Regions from separate parts of the Homo sapiens genome. Here region 2 is linked to region 1. Evidence: fine-mapped expression QTL. Tissue or cell type: pancreas. Region 1 holds a variant in brackets; the other region holds the start of a gene. All regions are shown on one strand. Distances are between the middles of the regions.

Region 1 (10,664 bases):
TCATTAGTTTTAGGACTGTGTCAAGTATGGGAGCGTGGGTGCTGCAAGAGGTAAGATCTCCCAGTGACTCCCAGTCATGAGACTATACAAATCATTAAACATATATGAAAAATACCTATCAAAAGGAAAAACAAATAACTTGGAAAATATTTTTGGCTTATACAGGAAAATGTATTTGTTATTCAAACCAATGAGAATTGAATGAGAGCTTCAAGTTTAAGTACAGAAAATTTGCATAGTAGGAAATATTTTTAATATGCAAACATCAAATGATGATTAACATTGTGATGTGTGAATGAAATTATATTTAGAAGACTGATAAGATACCTTTTACGATTAATGAGGTGTCAGCAGTGAAGGAGGTGTCCCCCTGTGACATACCTGACGTAATGAATGCAGTGTTACTGAAGCCACGTTTGCAGCATCTGTCCTGTGAAAACTGACAGAAAAACATACTGACAAGTAAAAATACCTTTGATCAGGATCCTACTACTGTGACTTTATCTAAAAGTAAGAAGATGATCATTGTGTATTTACATATAATAGCAAATTATTGGCATCAACCTTAATATTCTACCATAAGATAAAAATGGAAATAAATTTTAAAATGCAGAACTTAAAATAATAACTGTGGAGTTTATGCAACATAAAACATATTCAAAGTTAGCATAAATACAAAAACAAAATATATACTTATTTTCTATGTCAAGGTTATAACTATAGAGGTGATGTTCTTTTTTCTGCAACAGAAAAGTGGAAATAGTTTGGCATTTGGGGATAGCAGCATCAATGTAATTGAGCAACAATTAAGCAAACACTAATTTTAAAATGTACTATTGTTACTAAATGTTGCATAGTCAACATGGCAATACTTTCATTCCTTGTGATTAGTAGCGGTTGTATTTCAAGGCTTTGCAATTGTCAGTCCCTGTCTCTCAACCCCAACCCCAAATGGCCACCGGCAGTTTCAGCCCTTTCGAGCCTGCAGCAGAAACACCTGGGCTGTACTGACAGCTTCCAGAGTGAAATGAAGACCGCATGTGGTGCTTTGCCACAGGCCTGGGAATCGAGCTGGGCAGTGCTTGTAGGAACACTGGGCCGGCTTCCTTTCTCCCCACCACCAAGTATGGCCAGGTTATTTGACTGGCCTGCCAGGTGCTAGGTCTTGGTTCACACTTGCAGTCCTCTCCCTGTATAAGCTTCTGCTAGATTCTTCTGTGTTTAAAAGAATGTATTATTCCTCAGAAGGTTCATAAGAGCCTCCCTTTTCTGGGCTGAGAATGCCCACAGGATATCAAGAACCACCACTGCTCCCTTCTCTTCCACTTGGGAGCAAATTCCTTGGCTACCAAGACCATGGCAGTCTACTGTGTCACATCTGTTGGATGTATTTAGACTTCGGGAAATCATTGACCTGGTCATAAGTAGACCCAATGACTGCTCTATCCACTGTCTCTAAAAAAACCCTGAACTAGATACCATGGCTTATCCTGGGTCATTTATTTATTTCCTTGTTAGCCTTCAGTCTGAATAATCCTTACTTATGGATGTTCACCACGTGACCTGAGGTGGAGGATGGTGGCCTGAGAACATGAGGTGGCCCAACATGTTCAAGCAATGGGATCGAGTTGTTTTGTTCTTGTTTGCTAAGATACGTGTGGGGAACTCTGGATACATAGTTGGAATAGTTGGCATCCCTACAGTTTGGAATGTTTGTGTCTCACGCATTCCAAGGACATGCTCAGGTGTGCAATTGCCCGGGCTGTCGCAATACAGAGAAATGGGCCATTCAGCTTGAGTCAGAATAATCATAAACAATGCAAAGTACAAACTTCTCATAAACTTGAATGTGTCTCTAGACTTCGCACGTAGCTATTGAAGGTGAAACCCTCCTCCTCCAAAAAACAAATGGACTAAATCAAGGTTATAGAAGAATGAGCATAAAGGCACTTTATAACAGGGCTATGTTGGAATGTCACTTGGAATTCAGGCACTTGTCTGAAACTTGGCATCTTAGAATTGGAAGAGAAAGACTGTGAAAGGAATATTTAATTTGCTCCATTCCAAAACTTGACATCCAAACACTATTTAAAGAAACAGTTTTGATAATCTGTAAACTTGACATTTTGAACAGTCTTGTTCATTAAACCCCTTCTCTTTTCAGCCATGTTTATGAATCTCAAAAGCAGCACATAAACCTTCACTTACTGACATTTATTGATGTTTCATTTTAATTTAATACTTTTAATATAACAACTGCTGTTATGGTCCAGACACCAAGCTGAGCAATTTACGAGGTTTACCTCATTTAATCCTCATGACACCCCTATGACATGGTTACTATTTCTATGTGCATTATTCAGAATAGAGACTTACACAGGTTTGTTAACTTGCCTTCGTAAGTAAAAGCTTTAGTAAATTCTAAGACTTAATAAATTCCATAGCTCTCATGTAAACCCAGATGGCTTTATTTCAGAGTCAACCCACGTACTTAACACCACACTATGCGATGCGTGCCCAACACAAAGAAAACTCAAGTCAGATGTCAAAGCATCCTAGCATGATAGTTTATATGCTCTTCTCACAAGGGTGACCCTAGTGTCTTGATTCCACTCTGTCCCCTGACCTAGCTCTCATGGTTATGATTCCTTTTTCACCTGCCTTAGGTAGTGAAGGTGTTACCTAAAGGAGGGTGAGTGTGTGGCTCAGTGACATTGCTGAGATGTCACAGGCTTATTCTGAATAATGCACATAGAAATAGTAACCATGTCATAGGGGTGTCATGAGGATTAAATGAGGTAAACGTTGTAAATTGCTCAGTTTGGTGTCTGGACCATAACAGTATTTGTTATATTAAAAGTATTAATAACAAGCTTATTTTCCTGAACACATCTCACCCTGTTTTGTATCTATCTCAATGGGTAGAACATAACTATTGTGCCCAAGGAAGCTGTTCATGAAATAGAGGATGTAGTTAATACCATGGTTCCAAACCTTCTAAAGACAGGTAAACTTAGCTCCAGAACAGTTAAAGTCATTAGACTGTGGTTAGAATCAATTGTCATTCCTCCCTTCCCAAGAAAAGTATCCTATAATTACATTTAAATATAAGAAAAGGCTTTAACTAAGTTATTGCTGACTATATCTTATGTCCAATGAGATAATGAAAGAAAATGAAAACTTTTATTGTTTAAAATCGGTAACAGATTAATGGGTACAGAGTTTCTGCTTGGGGTATGGAAAGAATTTTGGAATGAGACAGTGGAGATGTAATTAATGCCACTGAATTTTACACTTAAAAATAGTTAAAATGGCAAATCTTATGTGATATATATTTTACCGTAAAGCTGTTTGTTTACTTCAAGGTGAGTATAGTCATCCTTCAGTATTTGTGGGGTATTGGTTTCAGTATCCTTTGCAGATATCAAAATCCACAGATGCTCAAGTTCCTGATATAAAATGGCATAGTATTCGCATATAACCTACACACATATACCTTTCTCCTCCATACACTTTAAATTATCTCTAGGTTATTTATAATACCAAATACTATGTAAGCACTATGTAAATAGTTGTTATACTGTATGTTTTATTTGTATTATTTTTGTTGTTGCATTGTTATTTATTTATTTTGAATATTTTCAATGTGGAGTCAATGAAATCCATGGATGAGGAACCCACAGATATAGAGGGTTGACTATAATCCAAGAAAGGGAGAGATGAGAAAATCACAGTGTCCTTTATAAACTGGTCTCTGAAGTTAGATATCATCACTATGTTTCATTCTATTAGTTACAAAGGAGTCAGTAAGTCCAGCTCACACTCAAGGGCAGGGGAATTACGTTCTACCACAGTACTGAAGGGGGAGTATTAAAGCCTTTGTGGTCGTATTTGAATTTCACCACATGTGGTGAGTTATAATGAATATCTTTCAAGTATTAAGCTACTATTAACCTCCTAGAATAAATTTACTTGGTAATAATGTATTTTTTGTATATTGTTATATTTGATTGCTAATTTTTATTTAAGAGTTTTGCATGTATGTATTTTGTAAGGTGCTTGTAAAGTCTTGGTATCTAAGTTATTCTGGCCTCATAAAATACCTAAGATTCTTTATTTCTTTTCCTATTACTTTTGGAATTTTTTTCAAAGAATTTATTCATCTGTTTCATCTAAATTGGCAAATTCTAGGTTGTAAAGTTGTTTATATTATACTCTTGTTACCTTTTTAATAACTGTAGGATACACAGTTATGTTTCTCTTTTCATTCCTAATATTGGTAATTTGTATTTTCTCCTTTTCTCTTCCTTGATCTGTCTTGCTAAACTTTACTGATTTCACTAATTTTTTTAAGGAAACAACTTTTAGCTTTGTTTTTCTTTTTCTTTTTAACAGCTTTACTGAGATAGAATTCATATACTCACCCATCATAAGTCTACCACTTGTCTCAACCATCTTGGGCTGCTATAACAAACATTCCATAAACTGGCTGGCTTACCAAGAACAGAAATGTATTCCTTCTAGAGGCTGGGAAATTCTAGAGGCTGGGAAGTTGCAGATACAGGCTCCAGCATATTCTGTGTCTGGTGAGGGCTCTCCCTTCCCTCCATAGATGGCACCTCTTGCTGCAGTCTCCAGAGTGGGAGGGGCATGCATGCTCCCCTGGGCTCTTCTGTAAAGGCACTAGCCTCATCCATGAATGCTGCACCGTCATGGCCTGATCACCCCCAAAGCCCTGCCTGTTAATACTAGTACATTGGGGATTAGGTTTCAACATAAGAATTTGAAGGGGACACAAACGCTCAGACCATAGATCCATTTAATAACTTTTAGTAAATTTTAACCAACCTCACAACCCAGTTTTAGGACATTAATAAAATGTTCATCATTGCCAAATATCCTGAGTGACTTTCAACCAAAACCACTAAGCTAAGCCACTCCCAAACCCTCAAACCAAAGAAATCATGAGATGATGAGTGTTTGTTGTTTTGTGTCTAAATATTGGAGTGATTTTTATGCAACAATAGACAGAATATAGATCACCACTCTTTTCTAGCTCTTCTATTTATGCTTGCAGACAGACTTCAGTATCATTTAATTGTTCCCCACCCAAAATATCATTGTTACTTTAAGTCAAGAATTTTCTGTAGCATATTGATGTACTTGTCAGGGTTCTCCAGAGAAACAGGATTTGTATTTATTTACTTATTATAAGGAATTGGCATGTGATTGTGGAGGCCAAGAAGTCCCAAGATCCGCAGTTGGCAAGGTGGAGACCCAGGAAGCCAAAACCCTGAGAACCAGGCGAGCGAATCTCCTAAGTTCTAGACCAATTCCGAGTCTGAAGGCAAGTGAAGACCAAGAGCACAAATTCTCTCTTACTCAGACTTAGACTTTTTCTTCTATTTAGGCCTTTGATAGATTGGATGAGGTCCACCCACAGTGGGCAGGGCAAGGTACTTTATTCAGCCTACCAATTCAAATGCTAATCTCATCCAGAAAAACTCTTATGGACACATTTAAAATAATGTTTCACCAAATATCTGGGCACCCCATGGCTCAGTCAAGTTGATACATGAAATTAATCATCACATATGGTAAGAGCACAAGCTTTGTAAACAAAGTGAACAGGATTCAAATTCCTGCTCTGCCATTTATCAGCTGTGAGGCCTTAGTAGTTATCCTAATTTGCCTTACAGAAAATGTTTTATTAAAAACAAACTTTAGCTGTATTCATATTGTGATGGACTCTAACTCCCAGCCTGACATGTGAATTATTGGTGTTCTGGTTACACCTGGAGCCCTGTTGTCCTCAGAATTCTGGCAAAGTCTATGATCCTTGGCAGAAATGTGTTGCCTCTTTGGAAACACCAGGTTCCAACACTTTGGAAACTCTTTATGCTTACCCTTGACTTACTTCCTGATAAATACATGGGAATGATTTCCAGATTAGC[G/A]CATGGCTTCCAAAGACAATATGAACACCCTGCCAAAACTGCTGCCCAATGCCTTTAAAGGTTGCTTTTCAGTTTGAGATTAATTTTTTATGTAACAATAGACAACTAATATAGGTCACCACTCTTTTTTCCCCCTATCTAATTTTTTATTATACTTTAAGTTCTAGGGTACATGTGTACAATGTGCAGGTTTGTTACATATGTATACATGTGCCATGTTGGTGTGCTGCACCCAGTAACATGACTAAAACACCAAAAGCAATGACAACAGAAGCCAAAATTGACAAATGGGATCTAATTAAACTAAAGAGCTTCTGCACAGCAAAAGAAACTATCGTCAAAGTGAACAAGCAACCTACAGAATGGGAGAAAATTTTTACAATCTACCCATCTGACAAAGGGCTAATATCCAGAATCCACAAAGAACTTAAACAAATTTACAAGAAAAAATCAAACAACCCCATCAAAAAGTGGGCAAAGGATATGAACAGACACTTCTCACAAGAAGACATTTATGCAGCCAAAAGACACATGAAAAGATGCTCATCATCACTGGCCATCAGAGAAATGCAAATCAAAACCACAATGAGATACCATCTCACACCAGTTAGAATGGCAATCATTAAAAAGTCAGGAAACAACAGGTGCTGGAGAGGATGTGGAGAAATAGGAACACTTTTACACTGTTGGTGGAATTGTAAACTAGTTCAACCATTGTGGAAGACAGTGTGGTGATTCCTCAAGGATCTAGAACTAGAAATACCATTTGACCCAGCCATCCCGTTACAGGGTATATATCCAAAGGATTGTAAATCATGCTGCTATAAAGACACATGCACACGTATGTTTATTGCGGCACTATTCACAATAGCAAACACTCTTTTCTAACTCTTCTATGTATGCTTACAGATAAACTTTAGAATCACTTAATTACTCCTCACCCAAAATATCATTGTTATTTTAAATCAAGAAATCTCTGCAGAGTATTGATGTATTAGTCAGGGGTTCTCCAAAGAAACAGAACCAATAGGATATGTATTAGCAGGATATGGATTAGGATCCTGCTGCTAATTAGGGTGTGGATAAGCTATAGAGAAGAGAATAAAATTATTTATTTATTTTTCCTTCTGATCCTTTTGCAATGAGTTTCCCTTCTTAGAGCTTGAGGCTGGTAAGGATTATTTTTTTTAACCTCACTTTCGAGCTGGTGGAAACGTGACAATGGCGGCATATATTTGCCAAGATGTGGGTGGTTTGTATGTGTTGTCGGCCCCAGCTCTGAGCCCAGGACAAAGAGCAACACCAGGCTAACAACCCAAGTGCTCACTACCCAGGCATTGCCTGGCTACATGGCCTCAGGGATGCAAAACTTTCAAAAGTTTTATAGCTTGGAGTTTGTTGCTTACTTTTTTTTTTTTTTTTTTTTTGAGAAGGAGTCTCACTCTGTCACCCAGGCTGGAGGGCAGTGTTGTGATCTGGGTTCACTGCAACCTCCCCTCCCAGGTTCAAGCAATTCTCCTGCCTCAGCCTCTGGAGAGCTGGGATTACAGGCGCACCCCCACCGCACCTGGCTAATTTTTGTGTTTTTAGTAGACGGGGTTTCACTGCATTGACCAGGCTGGTCTCAAATTCCTGACTTCAGGTGATCCACCCACCTCGGCCTCCCAAAGTGCTGGTATTATAGGCATGAGCCACCATGCCCAGCCTGCTTACACTTTTAAAATAAAGCTTTCTATTTTCATATTTATATTCAAGTGTCATAAATGATTTATGGTGAGGGTGAAATGACTCATCAGAGATGACAATGATTATGAAATGAGCATAACAAACATGAAGGGTCTCAATTTGAGGCTGCCGTGTTATTACCTGATGTGGGCTGGTCTCTAAGGGCAGAAATGCCTCCGAATAGAAGGAAAGAAAATTTAACTCCTTGTTGCTACTAGTAGAAGAAATTAAGAATTAGCAAATATTGGGCTTTCAAAATTATTGTTTTCCAAATTTTAGAGGTGGGTGTGTGTGGGCAGGAGAGTGTGTAATACATAAACATCTAGACATGAATTTGTATATAAAGAATTGTAACTTTCTTGTTTTCTTTTCTTCCTTCCCTCCCTCCCTCTGTCCTCTCTCTTTCTATTTTAAACACTAACTCAATTTCCTTTTTAACTCCATCTTGCTATTTGACAGAAACCTAATTTGGATTTGTGTCTCACTTCAATTCCCGGTGTTTCGCAGATAGTCAGGGGCTTGCATAGAAGCAGCACAGATCATGGTCATCGTGATGCTGGGTGGGTGGGGGTCATCTGTGTAGGCAGGTCCTTGACTTTACCCATCCACTCTGACAATGGCTGAAAATCCATTTAGTCCTTGGTCCTAGGCTCCTGAGGGTGGCTTGCTGCTGAATCACACTTTGTTTCAGTATTGTTAGGGTCAAGGAGGATTTCGTTCTGCTTCAGTACCATTCTCAGGCCCCTGGAGTCAGTTGCTTCCTGGACCATGGTGGGAAGGGAGCCCTGTATGACTATTACAGCCATTGTGACTAATCACATCCATATATACTTTTGGGCTAGTTCTTGCTACCTCCCTTGGCTCCACCTACTTAAGGGGCATAATTCCCCCTTGCAATTGGACATCCTCAGACAATGTGACACTTCTCCCCACCAACTGCCTGAGTCATCATTTTCTCAGGAGTCCACCGATACTGCCTGCATTGTCTTCATTTCCTTTCCAACTCTGTGCCATCCCCCTGAAGAGGAAAGCCTTTCTCTGGGTTGGCCAATGAGGAAACTGCGATTTCTCATCACAGCTTCTAAATGGGTTGCTACTATGTTTTATGAGACTTTCCTTTTACTCAGAGACTAGACTTAAAAAAAAAACAAAAAAACAAGGACAGGCTGTTGCTTTTCCCCCAATCATGTATCATCTGCTTCTTCAAGCAAATCAGCCTAGATTATCCTGACTGCTTCCCACAGGCAGAGGAAGGCGAGTGGGAATGGGAATGCAGGGGAAAGTCATGCCTCCTGCGTGGAAGCCAGCTTTGGAGGCTGGAGGTGTCATATAGGGCGCTAAATCAAGGTCAATCGCCTTTCATTCCTTCAAATACAATGATGGAAATTGTGGTCAAGGAACTGTCGTTTCCATGTGATTCTCCTGCTTTATCTCTTTGTTATGCCAGGATGCTGGGTACTGTGGCCCTCCCTGTCGCTTATGACGCTCCTCCACCTTGGCTTCTTTGAAGGCATTCTCCCCTCTGGCAGGACCTTCACTTTCCAGGCTGTTCTCAGCATCCCCCCTTCTCATTTCTCCTGAAGTGCTGAGGGTCCCCAGGCCTCACCCTGTACCCTCTTCCTGGATGTCCTCATCCCGGCCTGGCACTGCTGTTTCGTGACTTCTGGTGATCTCTTCCAGCTGATAAGCAATAAGGAAGGATTGGTGGAGTTGACTGTTAGCATCTTTTCACATCTAATGAAATAATAGGTTGGGCCCTTACCACCAGTGTCTGCTAATGTCAGAAAGGTGAGGCTAGCGGGCTTCTGTGCCTAGTGCTGGAAGTGCTGGCATCGCATGAGGGCAGGCATCCCTCAGCATCTGCAGGCACTGCTTTCAGGGCCCCCGTGGGTGCCAAAATCTACAGATGCTCAAGCTCCTGATAAAAAATGGCTTCGTATTAGTATGTAGCCTACATACATTCTCCCATATGATTTAAATCACCTCTATATTACTTATAATATCTAATACAATGTAAATGTTATGTAATAGTTACAATATTTTATTGTTTAAGAAATAATGACAAGAAAAAAGAAGTCTATACATGTTCAGTACAGACACGATTTTCTAAAAACTATTTTCTATCTGCAGTTGCTTGAATCCATGAGTGCAGGACACACAGATATGGGGGGTTTGTTGTATTTTATTGCTAAAAATTTGAACGTGGATGTGATAAAATATCTAGATTGAATTACCAGTTAACAGGAAATATAGGAGACAGGGCATCATTGGGATACAATCAGCAAAATGTAGACTATATAAAATTCTACCAACAAACTACTCACTTTCTTCAACAAATAAATTGAGAAAGAGTAAGGGAAGAAGGGAGGTAAAAAAATGGAGAGAGAGAGAAAGATGGCAGGAGAAAGAAAGAGAGAGAGAAAGATTTTAGAGTCTGCAAAAACCTTAAGAGACATCCTGGTTTGAATTCTGATTCAGATTTTAAAAATACGTATTAGTCAATGGGAAAAATTTGTACATAACTGGATATTTGATAATATTAAGAAATTATTGCTAATATTTTGGTGTGATAGAGGTATTGTGTGTTTAAAAAAATCTTCATTCTTGAGACATTTATGGATGAAAAGATGTGATGTCTGCTATTTGCTTCAAAATAGTTAAGGTTGGGCATAGGTGAGGGCATAGGTAAAACCAGATTGGCAGTGGAATGACAATCTTGGAAGCTTGGTGATGGATACGTATAGGGTCCACTATCTTATTTTCCTAATCTCGGCATATGTTTAAATTTTTTAGAATAAACCAGCAAATAATGAAGCTAAACATCATCCATATCTGAGCTCCAGACCCATCTAACCATACACCAGGTAGTCACAGAGACGTCACTTCTATTTCCCACAGGCACCTCCAGGTCATTGATTCTAGATGCCTTTTCCTCTGCCTAGCGCCTGGCCTCTGTTTCCTCTGCTAATGGCACTGCTATTCCTC
Region 2 (5,000 bases), 55 kb before region 1:
ATCCTTTATTATTGGAATCACACTCTACCTTTTCCCTCTTTCCTATATTTGGCAATATTGTAACAATTCCAGATGTCCTCAAAGAGCTCTTAGCATTGGCAAGTAACATCTCCGGAGACTTTAACAATCCTTCTTCCGTCTAGTGATCCCCAAATCTGGCTGCCCAACAGATCACATGAAGAGCATTAAAAAAAATCCCAAGTCCAGGTCTTGCCCCATGCCAATTAAATCAGAATGTCTGGGGGCGGGAGCCAGACACTGGTTTTTGTTTTGATTTTTTTTTTTTTAATCCCAGGTAATTCCAATGTGCAGCAAGGTCTGGGAACCACTGTTCTATGCCTTGCCCCTCCCCCAACGACCGCGCTGGGCACCAAACCCCAACTCCCCAAGCCAATGACATCAACAGCAAGTACGGGCCTGGCTCTTGGAACCCGCGCAGCTCAAGGTTGGAATTGTGCAATTAAACCTTCCAAGGCATGTTTCCCCTGTCAAGTGGGTTTATGGTCGGTAGTCACGAAGCCAGACTCGCTCATGTTCTGTCTGCACACTTGGCACACTTGAACCAGGGACAGCAATCCGGTGTGTGTGTGTGTGTGTGTGTGTGTGTGTGTGTAAGACAGGTTTAATATTTTGGTTGGCTCAAATTCTTCAAACAGCAAAAAGAGACATCCAAGAAAGAAAGTCTCCGGGTTTTGAGGAGAAGTTTGCTGTGAGCCCCATTTTGAAACACCATGGTGTTGGCCAGGATGAGCTCTGCTTCCGGGGCTTCCGCTCAAGAGTCCCGCGATCCCCCCCTGCAGTGGCCGGACAGCCGCGTCCCGCTCCACCGCGAAGCCCAGGCGCGACCGAAGGGCTGCAGGTGGAGCAGACCCGGACGTCTCCGCGAGGCGGCCATCGAAGGAGAGCCTGGGGCTTTCGGCGCGGGCGCCCAGGAGGGAGCTGGGGTCCCCGGGAGGTGGGGGGCACTCTTGGATAGGCAAGACGAGGGCGCACCGGGCGAGGCGAGCGGCCGGGGTCTGCGCCCAAGGGGCGGGTCGGACCCCACCTGCCTTTTGCCAACGAGGAAACTAACCGCCGCCAGCACCACCCCTCCCCGGGAGCCGCAGGTGGTGGTAGACGAGTTCTCCCAGCTCCCAGGTCGAGGCTGCGACTCCACACTGGGGAACGAGGATCGCGGGGACCTGGAGAGGGGCCGGGGCCAGGCTGGCGGGCGCCGGCTTCAGTTTGAGACCTGCGCGGAGGGCGGAGGCGGGGAGGTCCTCTCAGAAAGCCGCCTGTCCCGCGGGGTCCGAGGGGAGGCTGTATTTTTGGGTTCCTTCCTCAGCTTCCCTAAACAGTGCAGTCTCGGCGGGTGGGCAGCGCCCGCCCCTCGGGTGCGCGCCAGGACCCCGTCGCGCCCTGGGAAGACAGCGCGGGGCGCACGTGCGGGACCCCGGCCCCAGGCGCCCACCAGCACCCGGCTTTCGCCCACTGACGCCGATCCTGCGCAGCTGGGCGGGGAAAGTGAGGGAAGAAAGTTGGGAGCGGTTCGGGGCGCCGGAGGTCCCGGCGGCCGTTCCCCGCCTGGCCTGCAGCCCGGTGTCCCACGCGTCTCCTCCTCCGCCCGCCCCAGACTCTCCCGGCCGAAGAACGAAACGTCCCGTTCCTCCCGCGGTCCCGGTCGGCGGCGCAGCTGATCTCAAGGAAACAGGAAAGGACGGGCGGGGGCGCGGGCGCCGAGCCGGTGCGCCGGTGCGCGGTTGGGCGGGCTGCGGGGTCCGGGGCGCGATCCGGGGGCGGCGCGGGAGCCGGCGAGACACGCCCTTACCTTTCTTTTCCTCCAGAGCCCGACTCGCCGGGCAGAGCGCAGCCAGCAGCGCCAGGAGCGCTGCCCCGGCCGTCCCGGAGGGTCGCATCGCTGCTCCCCGAAGAGCTCGCTCCGGCTCTCCCGATCAATACTGGACGGAGTCAGGGGGCCGTGCGCGGTGGTTGTGGCGTTGGCGGCGAGGCGGGGACTCGGGCGGACGCCGACGAGGTGGCCTGTCGTCCGGTCTGGGCGGCGGCGGCCGCCGGGGCTAGCTCGGGACTCCGGCCGCCTCGGCCGCGTCGGGCGCTCACACCGTGCGGGGGGCGGAGGCTGCTGCGGCCGCGCTGCGCCGGGGGCTGCCCGGACGTCTAGCTCGCGCGGGCCGAGGCGCGGGGAGGCAGGGCGGGAGGAGGAGGGACCAGGCGGCGGAGGAGGGATCGGGAGGAGCAGAGGAGGAGGAGAATGCGAGGAGGAGGGAGGAGAACCAGCAGCGGGGACCCAAGGCCAGCGGCCGCCGGAGGCGGTGGACAGCGGTGGCCCCCGCGGGACCTAGTCTCCGGCGGGAGTGGGGCGGCGCATGGGAGGGGAGCGGGTGCCCTGAGGAGTTAATTTCCGAGAGGGGCGTTCCCAGCACTGCCCCTCTGGACCCGGTCCCCGCGGACTTGCAGGCCCAGCCTATGTCCAGGTCGAGCCAAATCTGTGCCAGGGTCCCCTTCCCCCTTTCCCTTCTTTTGTTTTACAAAGCAAACTTGTACCAGCTTTAGACAGACTGGCCGAGCCTTAGAGCCAGCGTCGGATAATGGCACCGACGGGGAAACTGCTCCTTTATTCGGGTCCCCACCTCCCCTGCAGCACTACGGGACCCTCTCGGGGATCAGAGGCTGGCCTGGCAGCTGAGGAGGTCGCCGTGCCCGCGCGGCAGGGGTGCCAGGCGTCCGAGGTGGTGCTCTAAAGTCCGAGGGTCCTTCAGATCTTGTCAAGCACCCTCGAAATCATCTGAAATGAGGGCACCCAACTCCGGGTGCAGAGACAGGCCTCCTTAATGTTTATTGCAACCAGCCATGGGTACTTTGAAGCCAATGTGTGAAGCACATTACTTCGCAAAAGTGAAGCTCTTGGAATAAAGGCTTGACACAAACAGCCGTGGAGGTGCTTTTAGAGAGGCTAAGTGTCCCACTGCCCCTGTAGCTCCCGCAGGAGAAATGCCAGGGAAACTCGCGGAAGCTTTGGCCAAAAGAAACTGAGCTTTTTTGGGCTGCAGGAACTTGAGCTATATTCCTTTGGCAAGTCCACCCCATCCCCACTGTTCCTTCTCCTGCAGTAAAAATGTCCTCTAGGTCCATGTTACAGCCAGACCCCTCCTCTCTTCACGAGATTCACTAGGACCTTCAGGCCTGGTTCAACAACCCTGATCTCTCGGCTCTGTCAAAAATCACAATCCTGAAGTAAGTGAAGCTACAGACCTGCCCTTTGCTGTCTCTGAAGGGGAGCAACCTTACATCTTTCCTCCTCATCCAGCAAAATGTTTGTGCCTGGGTCTCGCACCCTGCAGCCTGAACGGTGGGGTTTTTCACCAGGGCAAGCGCAGACAGACACAGGTCTGCTCACTGCCCGCACAACCTGGAACTTCCCTGTGAATTAGGAGAAGTAATCTGTTCCTTTGTTTTAACAAATCAGTACAGCCACTGTGCGTTGAAGTCATGCCCTGAATGCAGAGGCCATGAAGGCTCTGCAGGCATGTGTGTGCTTCCTGCACACCTGGGCTGAGAGCAGTCCGTAGAAACACAGAAAACAAAACTAGAGAAAGGCAAATGGGAAGCACAACAGTGGAACATAAAATGAAGACAGGAGTGAGTCTTACAATAAAAGACCTGAATACAATAAAGTCCTGTGCATTCACTTAACAAGGGCTGCAAATTTGGTTTTAAACTATATTTTCTGTCAAGGGAATGTGACCTGTGTGTACAAGTCACAACACAAATCAATTTAAGCTACAACTGATTTGTAAGACTGTACAGGAATTTCTTTGAGTGCCCAAAAAGACAGCATGTAAGAACATCAGTTCTCACTACGTTAGGACTATATGAGACAACAGCCTTCATAGTACGGCTTGTATATTCTTCAATGTGATCTGATAGCATCACAAGAAACAGAGCTTTTTGTAAAGAATTACTAGACACACACATAGCACAATACTGGGATGGATTCCAGGGAACAGAGAAGAATGGGTTTGCTGAACATCTTCATGGGACATCTATGTAAAGTTTGAGTTTCTCCTTTGAGCTTTTGATACAAAAGCTGACATTCACGTTGATTTTGTAGTCCTTGGCTAGTACCTGGAGTGTGCTGATAACTGTGTTACTTGGTAAGTAAAAAACTGTATGGCCGAGCAGGCACTAATGAAGTCCTCTTAAGAGAGATAAGTAGCCTGGCATAGTTAGGGCCCTGCACAGTTAGGGCTCTAGCTCACAGCCTCTGTGGAGGGTGGTCCTAGACCATGGCCCGGACAGAGGCTGGGTGTGTGTGCCACCACCACAGGAATGACAATAGTGGCCCAGTTGCTGTGTTAAGCATTGGTCAGACTAAGCTTATCTGATAACCTGTGAGCTGGTTAATACTTGTATCTGCCTTTTATAGCAATGTGATGCTGTGGCCGGGAGAAGTGACCAGGATACCAAGGTATACTTGCTAGTATGAGAGGCCAACTTTGAATCCAAGGCAGAGCCGTGTTTTACCCCTCTTGTCCAGCAACGCTTCAAAACCTGAGACAAATGGTGATGTCAGGACCTAAAATTCTATTTCATAATGTCTTGGAAATTTGTTAGGGTGAGTAATACCAAAATTTCTGCTTGGCCAAAAAAATTATAGATAAAGCCTTCATGTATGCTATATTAGCAAGTATGTACTAAGACTCTAGTATTTCCCTTAATAAATCTCATAAGCGTCTGTCAATTTTAATAACACAGATGGTTCCATCCCTTTGCCAGCTGTACATGAGAAACTTTTTTCCTCTGATGAGTGGTTATCCTCTTAGAAGAAGTTTCTGAGTATGTTGAATAAGAGTTTAGTCTTGTCTATAAGGAATGTGGCTCTGAATTTCCTAAAACCAAATGCTCTGTGAAAGGGGAGGAGAAACACGTTATTTGGCAGGGTGAAGATCTGAGGTCTTCAAATATTCTAAGTTCCATCTTAGGCAAAAGGCATTTGACCACCT

Direction of the effects. Positions count from the first base shown, and alleles are read on the strand shown. Sizes are in standard deviations (SD) of each study's normalised expression.
For the expression in pancreas of the gene that starts at base 2,156 in region 2, allele A in region 1 goes with a higher level than allele G (large effect, 0.82 SD a copy in GTEx).

The links. PIP is the estimated chance that this variant, and not a neighbour inherited with it, causes the effect.
Region 2: EGFR starts here. The variant in region 1 is fine-mapped to the expression of EGFR in pancreas (GTEx, PIP 0.95).

Annotation. Positions count from the first base shown.
Region 1 is chr7:54,958,604-54,969,267 of GRCh38, reverse strand. No RefSeq gene overlaps it. Among named protein-coding and RNA genes, the nearest start is that of EGFR, 55 kb to the left of the region's middle. The variant G/A (reference allele first, on the strand shown) is at 5,955.
Region 2 is chr7:55,016,173-55,021,172 of GRCh38, reverse strand. EGFR (epidermal growth factor receptor) reads right to left here and starts at 2,156. Exons shown (of 28, transcript NM_005228.5): 1 at 1,808-2,156. The coding sequence starts at 1,895. It overlaps LOC105375284 (a long non-coding RNA gene), which reads left to right and starts at 2,251. Exons shown (of 4, transcript XR_007060329.1): 1 at 2,251-4,612. RefSeq lists an enhancer at 482-1,156.